Regions from separate parts of the Homo sapiens genome. Here region 1 is linked to region 2. Evidence: fine-mapped expression QTL. A gene starts in region 2. The other region holds a variant in brackets. All regions are shown on one strand. Distances are from middle to middle. Region 1 overlaps HS3ST5 (heparan sulfate-glucosamine 3-sulfotransferase 5). Region 2 holds the start of HS3ST5 (heparan sulfate-glucosamine 3-sulfotransferase 5).

What was found.
Region 1: its variant is fine-mapped to the expression of HS3ST5 in skeletal muscle (FUSION, PIP 0.92).

What each region holds. Positions count from the first base shown.
Region 1 is chr6:114,113,493-114,118,871 of GRCh38, forward strand. All of the region lies in intron 3 of HS3ST5 (heparan sulfate-glucosamine 3-sulfotransferase 5), which reads right to left. It overlaps HDAC2-AS2 (HDAC2 and HS3ST5 antisense RNA 2), which reads left to right. Exons shown (of 10, transcript NR_125845.1): 6 at 2,626-2,688. Among named protein-coding and RNA genes, the nearest start is that of HDAC2, 150 kb to the left of the region's middle. The variant T/A (reference allele first, on the strand shown) is at 2,421.
Region 2 is chr6:114,340,635-114,346,013 of GRCh38, forward strand. It overlaps HS3ST5 (heparan sulfate-glucosamine 3-sulfotransferase 5), which reads right to left and starts at 2,389. Exons shown (of 5, transcript NM_153612.4): 1 at 1,561-2,389. HDAC2-AS2 (HDAC2 and HS3ST5 antisense RNA 2) reads left to right here. Exons shown (of 10, transcript NR_125845.1): 10 at 1-95. LOC107986638 (a long non-coding RNA gene) reads left to right here and starts at 1,691. Exons shown (of 8, transcript XR_002956366.2): 1 at 1,691-1,755.

The sequences.
Region 1 (5,379 bases), 230 kb before region 2:
TCTGCTTGGAATGATCTTCCTCTCCTTCAATGGATGGCTGCCTTCTTTCCATTGATGTTTCAATTCGAGTGTCACCTCTTCTAAGAAGACTTCATTAATGCTAGCCAAGCAAGCCTAAAGTTGATCTATTAAATTACTCATAGCGTATATCAGTATCCAAACTCTCACTGATCCATTAGCTAAAACACCATCCATTTATTATCTGCCTGCCCCCACCAGAATGCCTGGCATATAGTGTTTCAATAATTTTTTTAATGACTACTCTTACGCTAGTCTATAAGTTAACACTCCAGAGTTAACTTGGTTGAAGAAAGATTTGGGCAAGATAACTGTCAAAGTCTTTTTTTTTTATGTGATCATTTACTTGTCCTTGGAAGTAGTATGAAAGTAGGATGCCTGTGTATCATTACATTGTTATCATTAGAAATCAGGCTGGCCAGCTGCAGTACCTACCCATCTTTCTTTGTTTCTACTTTGATTCTGTGACAGGATTAGTGACAGTGATAATTACCTCAAATGAATAGTTTATACCTAACTGAGAGTGCTTATATTTTAATTTTTGTTCTGCCATTACAATGACAAGTTGTGGGCTTTCTCTGCATTTGTTACACATGCATTGCTTTGGTTTCTGAGACTAAAATGGAATAACCTGGGTGGTGGAAACAATTTATAGTTCTTTAAACCACTATAGTGCCAAACATGTAGCAGGTTCTCTATGACTAGTTTGACTCACTGATGTATTTTCTATGGAGTCACAAATATTTCTTGCCTCACTGAGGCCTTCCTTTCCTCCATGCCTAGCAATGCACTCACCTTCTACTTTATCCATTGTGCTGTTACTTTTAAGTGTTAGCAGTAAGTGGAGGAATAATCCCTCCCATTTCTGATTTACAGAATAGGATGTTACTAAAGTTTTCTTGATGGTAATGACATAAGAACTCTCAGAACTTTTCAACAGAGTCTTAGCTACTGAAGATCCAATAGGATCATATAATTATGTGATCTCTTACAGCATGATTTGCAAAAACAGGAATGCTGGGAGGCCTCAGTCATTGGCAATATAGAGTCACACATTTTTCCTACTTACAAAACTGCTCTTTAAAATCTGATTATGTGCAGATATTAGGTCTATTTTGTTATTATTACACATATGTTTTTATGATTGGCACAATATTTATGTTTTGATTTTTCCTTTCTTGACTAAATTAATCATAGTATAATATCTAAATGAAGCAATATATATTACTTAGAGGACAAAAATATTTAAAGAAAATGCTGCAGTTGAAACTGCAAGTTACTTTTTAAAAAAATCGTATTGATCAGTTGCTTTGCTGTAATTTAGACTCAGTCATAGGAAAATGCACTCTTTTTGTGTTAAAAGGTTATGTGAACACAAAGGTTATGTGATTTCATTAATTCACTCAGCAAATCACCTTTGATATTATCTTCATAAGCTTTATAAATGCAAGGACAGTGTTCATATGGTTCAGTATTTTTTCTGCAGCGACCAGAGTCCTGGTCCCGAAATCAAGTGCATAAATGCTATGTACAATGTGGAATCTCAGTAATTCCCAGTTGGCAAATTATGAGGATAATAATAAAACCTATATGAGGATATATTTTATTTTTTATGCCATCCCATATATTTCTGTCTCACATGAAAAAGGCATGAAAGTAACACATGAATTTTAGAGTGGTTGATGGTGGTTGAAGGGTATGTTCATTTTCCTGAAGATAATTTTTTTTAATTCTGATTTTCTAAGAAAACTATAAAAGTCTCTCATAGACACATTTACAAACAAGAAACAATGGCATTTAGTTGAATTTTGGGGAATAAGTTTTTGCAGCAAGTATGTCTAGCATGAAGTTAGCAGTCTCAGAACCTTTTGGCTAAATTACATGAGTCTCTTTCTCTTAAAAAGCTAACCAAGTCTCTGTTAGCTTGGTCTAGTCCTGCTATAAAGAAAAGAATAATGTCACATATCTGTCCTATCATTATAACAATGACATAGTGTTAACCTCTTATGGAAGGGGAAAGAAGCATAGATGCCAGATTGAATCCCACTGGCCCGAAAATCTTGCTCTTTCCCTTATACACAATCCCTCCACAAATGCAAAAAACATGGCTAACTTGCTGTGATCCTTCCCCACATTATTTCAAATGTCCAGAAAGACACTAAATAAAATCAGAAGTTGAACTATTTGAAGGAAGTTCTCTTTCTTTTTATTTTTTGTTTGAAATCCTGTTTAGCATCCAAGCAGGCTTCTATGATTGACGGTGGTAAATGACAGATAGAGTTCAATACAGTTCTGTGGTGAAGGGTAAGTATTTTAGTGTCTCTGTGGCCTGATCCAAAGGCTATTCCTAGCAGTTTGTCATTTAGTACAGAGAAGGTTAGTGAGGTCATGTTGATATATGA[T/A]CTTTTATGCCCTGAACTTATCACTGCAGTTGAACTGGCCCTATAATTCTCATTAACAATGAGCAGTTATTTTTTGATACTAAAGCATAAAATAAAACAATTTTTTTTGCTCTATTCTCCAAACTACAATATAAAGAAAAGGCACTGCTTGAAGTTTAAAGTATTCCACCAGAGAAATTTAGGGTATCTTTATTTTTACCCACAGGAGTAAAAAGACTTTGGCGTTCTCAGAAGAAAACCAAATGAGATCACACGAATGAGACTGCTGGTAAGAACTGTCTAAATGTTAACATCACCATGATAAATATCTGTTTTTAATGGAGAATGAGATTACCTTTAAAGATATTCTAGCATCTCAGCATATATTCCAAAAGGAATACAATTCTCTAAAGGAAAAAAATGCCAAAGAGATGGGAAGGCAATGTGGGATGGGAGAAAGAAATGCCAGCCTAAGAATTAGGAGACCCCAGTTCTAGTTTGCCTAGGTTATGGGCTAAATGATGTGCAGCAAAGACCATAACCTCTCTTTACCTGGTCTTTTCTTGCTTGGATTTTACTAACAGCCTGAAGTGTTTTTGAGTCAGCTGACAAACTTACTAGGTCTCCAAATCCATTTACCCCACAGACCTTTCTATTTTTATAAGTTTCAGCAGTATCTCCAAGAGCATTAAGAATAAAGTTAAATTTCTTAGCAGGCCATAGATATCTTTCAAGGTTTAACCCTTGCTTACCTTTTACTTTGCCCTTCGCCTTCCACTTCCCACCTCCTTCCCCATCCTCTTGCCATCCAGAACTAATGGAACTTCTGCCCTAACAGCTAGATCTCCATTTTCCCCCACCACTGACCTAACTCTTACTTAATGAGTTTAAGTAATGGCTTACTTCACCTTAATTGCTGCCCTTCCTTTTGGGTTTGGTGCCATCCTTTGTTACATTTTAGCACTTACTGTATTATAATAATCTGTTTACTTATTTGTTCTCCCCCTCCCTTCATCCATTAGACTAACGCTTCTTGGCAAAGGGTAGTAACTGAATAATGAATGCATGAAAATCAACTCTCCTTATTCCTATTATTATAGGGGAAGGGGAGATGGAAGTTGAGTCATTGGCTAATATCATCATCAAGAAATCAAGTCATCATTTTTACCAGGAATTCAAAATTCCTCCCCCTCCCCATTCCGGCTGAATCCTCTGGTGGAAAATAACTAATTAATTAACTGAATTAATTTTAATTCATTAGAATACTAAAATTAATGTTGAAGAAATAGCTCATTCCTTTTACTTTCTAGGCAAAATATCTTGAATTTGACTGCAAATAATAAGTTCCTTTGGGCTAATTTTTCATTCAACCCTGTCTTGGCTCCATGTGATCATGGTTTATATCTGGGCATCACTTATCTCTGCTAGAAAACACAGAGGTAGCCTGGAATAATGGAACAAAATATTTCTCCACGCAAAATCAGAAAATATGGGTTTGAATTTGTCATTTCTTAGTGTGGTGACATTGGGCAACATATGGAATCTTTTGAACCTCAGTCTTCTCTTCTGTAAATTAGGGTAATACCCAGCTTACAAAGTTATGGCAAGTCTCAGGTAAAATGATCCATGATGTGAAAGCACTTCAAAAGAGTTAAATGCTAAACAAGTATGCTATTACTCTAACCCTAAACCCAAACTGTCAGTATTGTTTATAAATTGGCCATCCAATCTAACTTCTTCCTAGAGATACTATACCAGGCAAAAAAGACCAATTTGAATTTTATCTCCTCTGCCAAGTAAAAAGAAACCAGAAAAATGCCTAAAGGAGGAAGATCAGTGCATCAAGCAGGCCAGATATAATCCACAACGTAGATTACTGACTTAGGCTAATTGGGAATTCAGAAATAGACATCTCTGCCCTGTATAACTACCCCTTCCCTCAAATATTCACTCCCTATCCAGACATCTACCTCTAGGAGTGGCACTGTGGGCAACGTAGGGAATTCAGAGTGCAACAAATGTCTCTATAGTGTCTCATATTCTGAAAATGCCTTTGCAATCAATTCTATATATTATGCTTCACAAGGACCTAGAGAGGTATGTTAATATTATCCTTGGATCAGAAAAAGAAGACACCTAGCAATTAAGTGATTTGCCTCACATCATAAAGGGAATTAATGCCGACACCAACATTCAAAGAGGCCTTCTTTGCATAGCAAGGAGAACTCCTTTATTTCTCCAGTTGTAAATTATCCACATTATGACCAGATTTACCAGTCCTCAAGGCAGATGACCTTGAGGTACCATTGAGATTCTGAGGGGGCATGTATGGACATCTATACAATTATTGCCAGCTTAGCCACTTCCACATAAGTCACAGCTAGGTATAATTTTCAGCGGAAAAAAAATGGCATATAGAAAGGAGCCACTGATCTATATATAGTCAGGCAGGTAATACAAAGAAGAGACACAAGGGCAAATCTGTGTTTTGTCTTTAAGAGTCTGATGTTCTTTCTTGGAGACCAGTGATTCTCAAACACTTTATGTATTTCTTAAGGATGGGAGTTAACTGCATTATAAACAATCTATATATAAGAAAGCAATTATATGGGGTTATTACCATTATTTACCATTATCTTGACTACCTATTCTCATTTCTCTACTCAAGAATATATAGTGAACAAATAAAGTAAATTTGAAAGTTTAAAACATGGAAGTAAATATGAGCTCCCACAGGTGGGACAGGCCTCATGACCAAAATGAATTGATAGAAAGGTATATGTCTCAGTCATTAATCTCTTCACAAGATGTTTACAGTTCTTCTTTCTGACAGGTGGTAGGAGAGTATTTCTCCATCCCCTTTAGAAGACAGGAGTAGAATAGGACTATTCTGACCAATAAAACATGAGCAGAAATGGCACATGTTACCTCTAGGTGAGAGCTTTAACAGTTGGTGTGAAATGTGGGTCTCTTTCTCTCT
Region 2 (5,379 bases):
TTTCTTTAAAAACTTCACTAGGAGGAAACCCCAAGGTAACAATGACAACAACAAAAATCTATTGCAACATAATTGATAGCAATAAAACCTTTTTTAAAAAATAATCATTTTTGATATTCATATTTGTAATCCCCTTTTATTATCTTCAACTTTTTCTTGAAAAGACCTTAATATATTTGAAATAAATTATAATGTGTAATTTGTCTAAAGCTCTGAAATATGTAGAAACTACTAAGTAAAACCTTTGAGAAGCACCAGCTGTTTATTACTTCTAGCAAATCAGTTTAGAAAGGAGCATTAGCACAGAAAGAAGGCCCACCCACCCACTTTCGCCCCCACCCAACCCGACCCTGCATGCTATTTATCAGACCAAGTTTACATAAATCAGAGAAGAGTTACAGTGCTATTAAATGTATCCACGAAGTAATATGACATAAAGCACTTTGCAAATATTAAATCTCTCCCCAGTGTTTTCTAAGAAGAAACTGGTATTCGTATTCGGAGACAGAGAGGAGAGGGGGAGAGAGGGGAGGGAGGGAGGGAGAGGGAGAGGGAGAGGGAGAGGGAGAGGGAATAGGGAGAGAGGGGGAGAGAGAGAGAGAGAGAGAGAGAGAGAGAGAGAGAGAGTGAGTCCCACCGGGTGAAGACAGGGTAGACCACGAATGTGAGCATCAGCTCCCTTGGGTGGGTGCCCTGAAGCACTGAAGTAGGGAAGCGGAAGAGTAGAGGAAACCCACCAAGGTGAAGTGACTCCGGAGTTGTTTGTTTGCTGGGCGCTTGGAACCTCCAGGTAAAGACATCCACCTTAAGCTGGACGCTCCTTGCAGGTTGCCCTAAACCAAGGTGGTCGCCCAAGTAACAGGAGCAGGAGTCTCAGCGCTCCAGTGAGTAGCGACAGCGACCTCTCAGACTTGTTTGTAGTAACAGTATGACCACCCTTCGACTGCATCCATCCCGCGCGCGCGCGCGCGTGTGTGTTGGGTGGGAAGAGATGCATAAAGTGGGGCTGTGAGGGGTGTGGGGGGGGCCAGCTGGGAAGAGAAAACCCCACCCACATGTTAACTTAGCCTTTGCCTGTTCTTTGCCTGCCCTCTGCCTGTCCTCTGCTGGGGCCTCGCAGGCCCCCACTGTCCCAAAGCTGCCCTCGCGCTCCAAACAGCTCCACAGCCACCCCAGAAGTGACCGAACGCGAACCCCTAAACTCTGGCGAGCGCAGTAAACGCGTGTTCCCTTTCTCCCTCAAAGAGAGCGCTACCCAGCGCTCTGGGAGAGACTGAGAGAGAAACAGACAGGCAGGCTGACTGACACCTTCTGTCTAATTTTACCCCAGGAATTGCCCCCGCCGTTTCTCATCTCGCACTAGTTTAACCTCTGGTCCTAAGCAAACCTCTCAAAAGTCTTCCCCAGGCAGCGCCCAGGAGAACCGAACCCCACAAAGTGCTTTTTTGCTGGCATCACCCGGATGCTTCCCTTTGGCGATTTGCCCCTTCTCATTTCCCCCCAAATCTAGAGGTCTCAAAGCCCCTCCCCCGCGCGAGGCGGGCAGCGCGCCTTGCTCACCGTGGTCCCCGGCGGTGGCGGCGCGGGCGGGAGCCTCAGGGCGCGGGGGTCGGCGGCGGGTCGCGTGGGGGTCACCCGGCCGCTGCTGCGGTCCGGACGGCAGTTGGTCCAGTAGTTTCGGATGCCCGGGCTAGGCTCGGCGGAGAGCGAGTCGGCGTGAATGAGAGCAAACCAACAGGGCTGTGCGTGGCGCGTGTGAGTAAGACGCGAGCGGGCCCCACACGCAGGCGGCGGCGGCGGCGGCGGCGGCGGCGAGGTCTGAGGCGGGGAGCCGGGCGGGGGGGCAGGCGGGCGAGAAGTAGTGGAGTTTAGGGCGCGTTTCCTGCACTTCCCCGAGAGGCTGGAACCAGGTGCGGCAGGGCGCGCTCCCGTGGCGCGGGCACGGCACGGGCGGCCGCAGGAGCCGGAGTCCGCGCAGTGCCGGAGACCGCAGCCGCTCTGCGGGGGGAGGTGCGCATCCTCCTTGCCCCACGAGGGCACCGGCGCAGCCCCGGACCCTGCGCGCAGAGGGCGAGACTTCGGGCGTCCTCGGTGACAGCTCCTCGGGCAGCCCGCTCCCTCCCAATCCGCCCAAAAGAGCAACACTCAGTGTGACTGGGATCTTCCCTTCCTGCGTCCTCGAGCCTCCGGTGCCAAGCTGTGCGGGCGCCCCGCTCCCCGCGGCTGGCGCTGTCACGGCCGCCGCCCGGCCCCCAGAGCGCCCGAGCCGGCAGCTGCCTCCCGGAGACGTGCCCAGCTGTGTGCGCGTGTGTGTGTCTAAGCGAATCTCTTCCCCTCCATCACTTGGGCGCGCAGGAGGGACCGGGTCCCTGGCGACCAGCTGCAGAGTGGCTGCCAGTCCACACCCTCCCGGCTCTCTCCCCACCCACCCCGCCCCTACTCCTCCTCGCCTTCCCCTCCTCCCCGTGCTCCTCCTCCAGCTGCCGCTCCCGAGCTCCCAAAGGCAGCGGAGAAACCGCAGCGAAAGGGAGGAGGAGGAGGGTGGGGAAGGAAGCGCAGGTGTCTTCGGCGGAGAGACGGGCGCACGCACCGGAGCGGCTTGCTGCAGGGGGAGGGCAGGGCCTTAGGCGGAGAAAGGGGAGGAGGAGGATTTACCCGGAGGCGGAGGTCCCGCAGCTGAGCCACTGCGCGTCCCACCCAGGCGCTGGAACCGCGGGCGAGCAGCGCAGTGGGGCTGCCGGGTGGGCGCGCAGGGCTCCCAGTTGGACTGAGGTCGCAGCTTGGGGAACCTGCGGAGGTGACCAGGGTGGCAGAACTCGGGGACACAGAGGTCGGAGGGACCCAATTGCTGAGGCGCTGAGACCGGTCTCTCTGGGGTGAGGGGGATGCCTAGACCCAGAGCTTGGGGCACACAGGTGTCCAGGAAGCTGGTGTGTGTGGCTCCAGAGTGCCAGGCGGGAGAGCCGGAGGCGGTGAAGGGTCGGGCGGCGGCCGCGGCGTGCTTGGGGCTGCTGTGTGCATCCGGAGTCACAGGGGGCGATCACCGCCTAGCTGGGAAGCGGAGCTCAGGACTCAGCCTTCTTTCAGGTCCCAAGTCCAAAAGCCGAGAGGCACACTAGCCTTCCCAATTTAGTCTGTGTTCCTCCAACCCTTTGCCCCCAGCAAAACAACAGGCCAGGAGCTGATTCTACCTGCTACTTACTGTGCTCTTTACCGGACTGAAAGGACTCTACTGCTCCAAGGAGACTGATGTGTTGCTTCCTCTCTCCCAACTCTAGTCCCCTCCCTCAACATACATTCCTACCCAACCAAAATTATCCAGAACATTGTATTTCTCATTGATAAACTTTTTCCCTCTGGGGTTCCCTAAAAATGAAAATCTTTCCTCCCTTTTTATCTGTAGAGGCATTAAGTCTCTTGCTTACATTTCATAGTACAAATGCAGTACACAGAAAAGTCCTTTAGGCAAGAAATCACAGCATTATTGCTTATGACGGCTTGTCTGTTTTCAAATGACAGTCGCAGAATGCAAATTTGTGTCAACCTGAGGTCAGTGGAGAGAGTTGGTCCATTTAATTAGAGGTATTTTGGAAGGAATCTGGGAAACAACACTAGAAAGAATTGCTGTACTTTCTCCAGTACCCATTCCTTTTTATTATGGTAATTTCACTCTGTTAATTTAGGCAATCTGAAAATGAAAGGTCGGATGCAATTTACAAGGCACAATATTTCTAGATTCTCATTCAACAGCCCGCCCCACCTCCTTCCTCCCACCACTCTTACCATCACCTCAAAAGGTCATGAGCTAAGAACCGAAACTGCACTTTTTAAATCTCAGGATATAGCCTGAATGACAAAGCTGTTGAGTTTTAGAAAGAGACCAGTTAAGTCTAAACTTATTTACCAACTACTCAGACAAAATCATATGCTCAGCAGCAACAATAAAATGTATACTGTGTAATATATTGAGCAGGAGGAAAGATGGCTGTTTGCCAGATATGTGATCCATTAACCTCTTTAGCTCATTGTTGGCAACAATAGCATACAATCACATTCCTATGTTTGAAAGACAAGAGATTTTTTTTTCCCATCTTAAAATCACAATGCCACATTATAGTCTAAAAGAAACCTCAAACAATAAAAGTAATAAGAAAGGAAGAAACATGGTTTGTTTTTTTTCTGAACAAATGTTGCTGTTCTGTTTTTTTTTCTTGAGGGGAAAAATGCTGATAAGCAATAAAGTCCACAAAAGCATGACAATAGATTTTGAAGAATGCATCACTCCATCTATTAGTCCTTTCAATTAGTAAACTTTATTTAAAAGGTTTATTTATATTATCTTTTGATTGGTATTCAGTCTTTCTTTTGTGCCTGGAAGATGACTGAGAAGGAGGATGGGTGAGCTGAATCTGGTTTCTCATAATTCTGTCTTGCATCAGGTTTATGTCTGGCAGGAGAGGAATGCTCAGCAGCCTGTGCTTTCTCAGCAATCCTAACTTCTCCTCAGAGGATCCTTTGCTCTGTAGCTGATGGATTGTGAGATTGTCACAGTAATTTTGCCTACCTGCTACAGGGTCACACCTGGGGTTGGGAGCAGGTACGGTTCCAAAAACTGGGATGCAATGCTCTGGAAAGAGCTTTTACCTTGCCCAGGGTTGGAGGATTAGATGAAGGTGCATGAGCTTTTTTGTGTTGCTTTTCAACTTCTACAGATGACCTGGATTTTCTGCTAGGTGAAGTGTGGAGGTGGGTGGGTGTGGTCTAACATTTTAAGAAACATTTTGGTATTGTGGTAAATTAAACAAATAAAACTAAACACTAGACATAATGGTACACCCAAAAAATCTATTTGAAATACAGTTTTGAAAACAGTCACAGATTTATTGGTTTAGCTTAGTCATCTATGCCAAATAAAGTACACAGCAATGAAAACATTTGGTTAATTAGAGTGTTCATTTGGTAAAGAATATATTTTTTTTCCTGAACATCAGCATACTCTCTTGTCTCATAAAGATGTAACCATTAAATATTATTTGGGCCAGTGATGCTAGCTTATGTCTATAATCCCAGCAATTTGGGAGGAGAAGGTGGAAGGATCACTTGAGGCCAAGAGTTTGAGATCAGCCTGGGCAACATAACGAGACCCCTTCTCCACAAAAAATTAGAAAAAAAAAAAAAATTAGCTGGGCAGGGTAGTGTATGCCTGTAGTCTCACCCACTCTGGAGGCTGAGCCAGGAGGATCCCTTGAGCCCAGGAGTTTGAGGTTACAGTCATCCATGATCACACCACTGCACTGCAGCCTGAGCAGCAGAGCAAGGCTCTGTCTCCAAAATATAAGAAATATTATTTACTTTACAGCTTCAAATGGAGACTGCCCT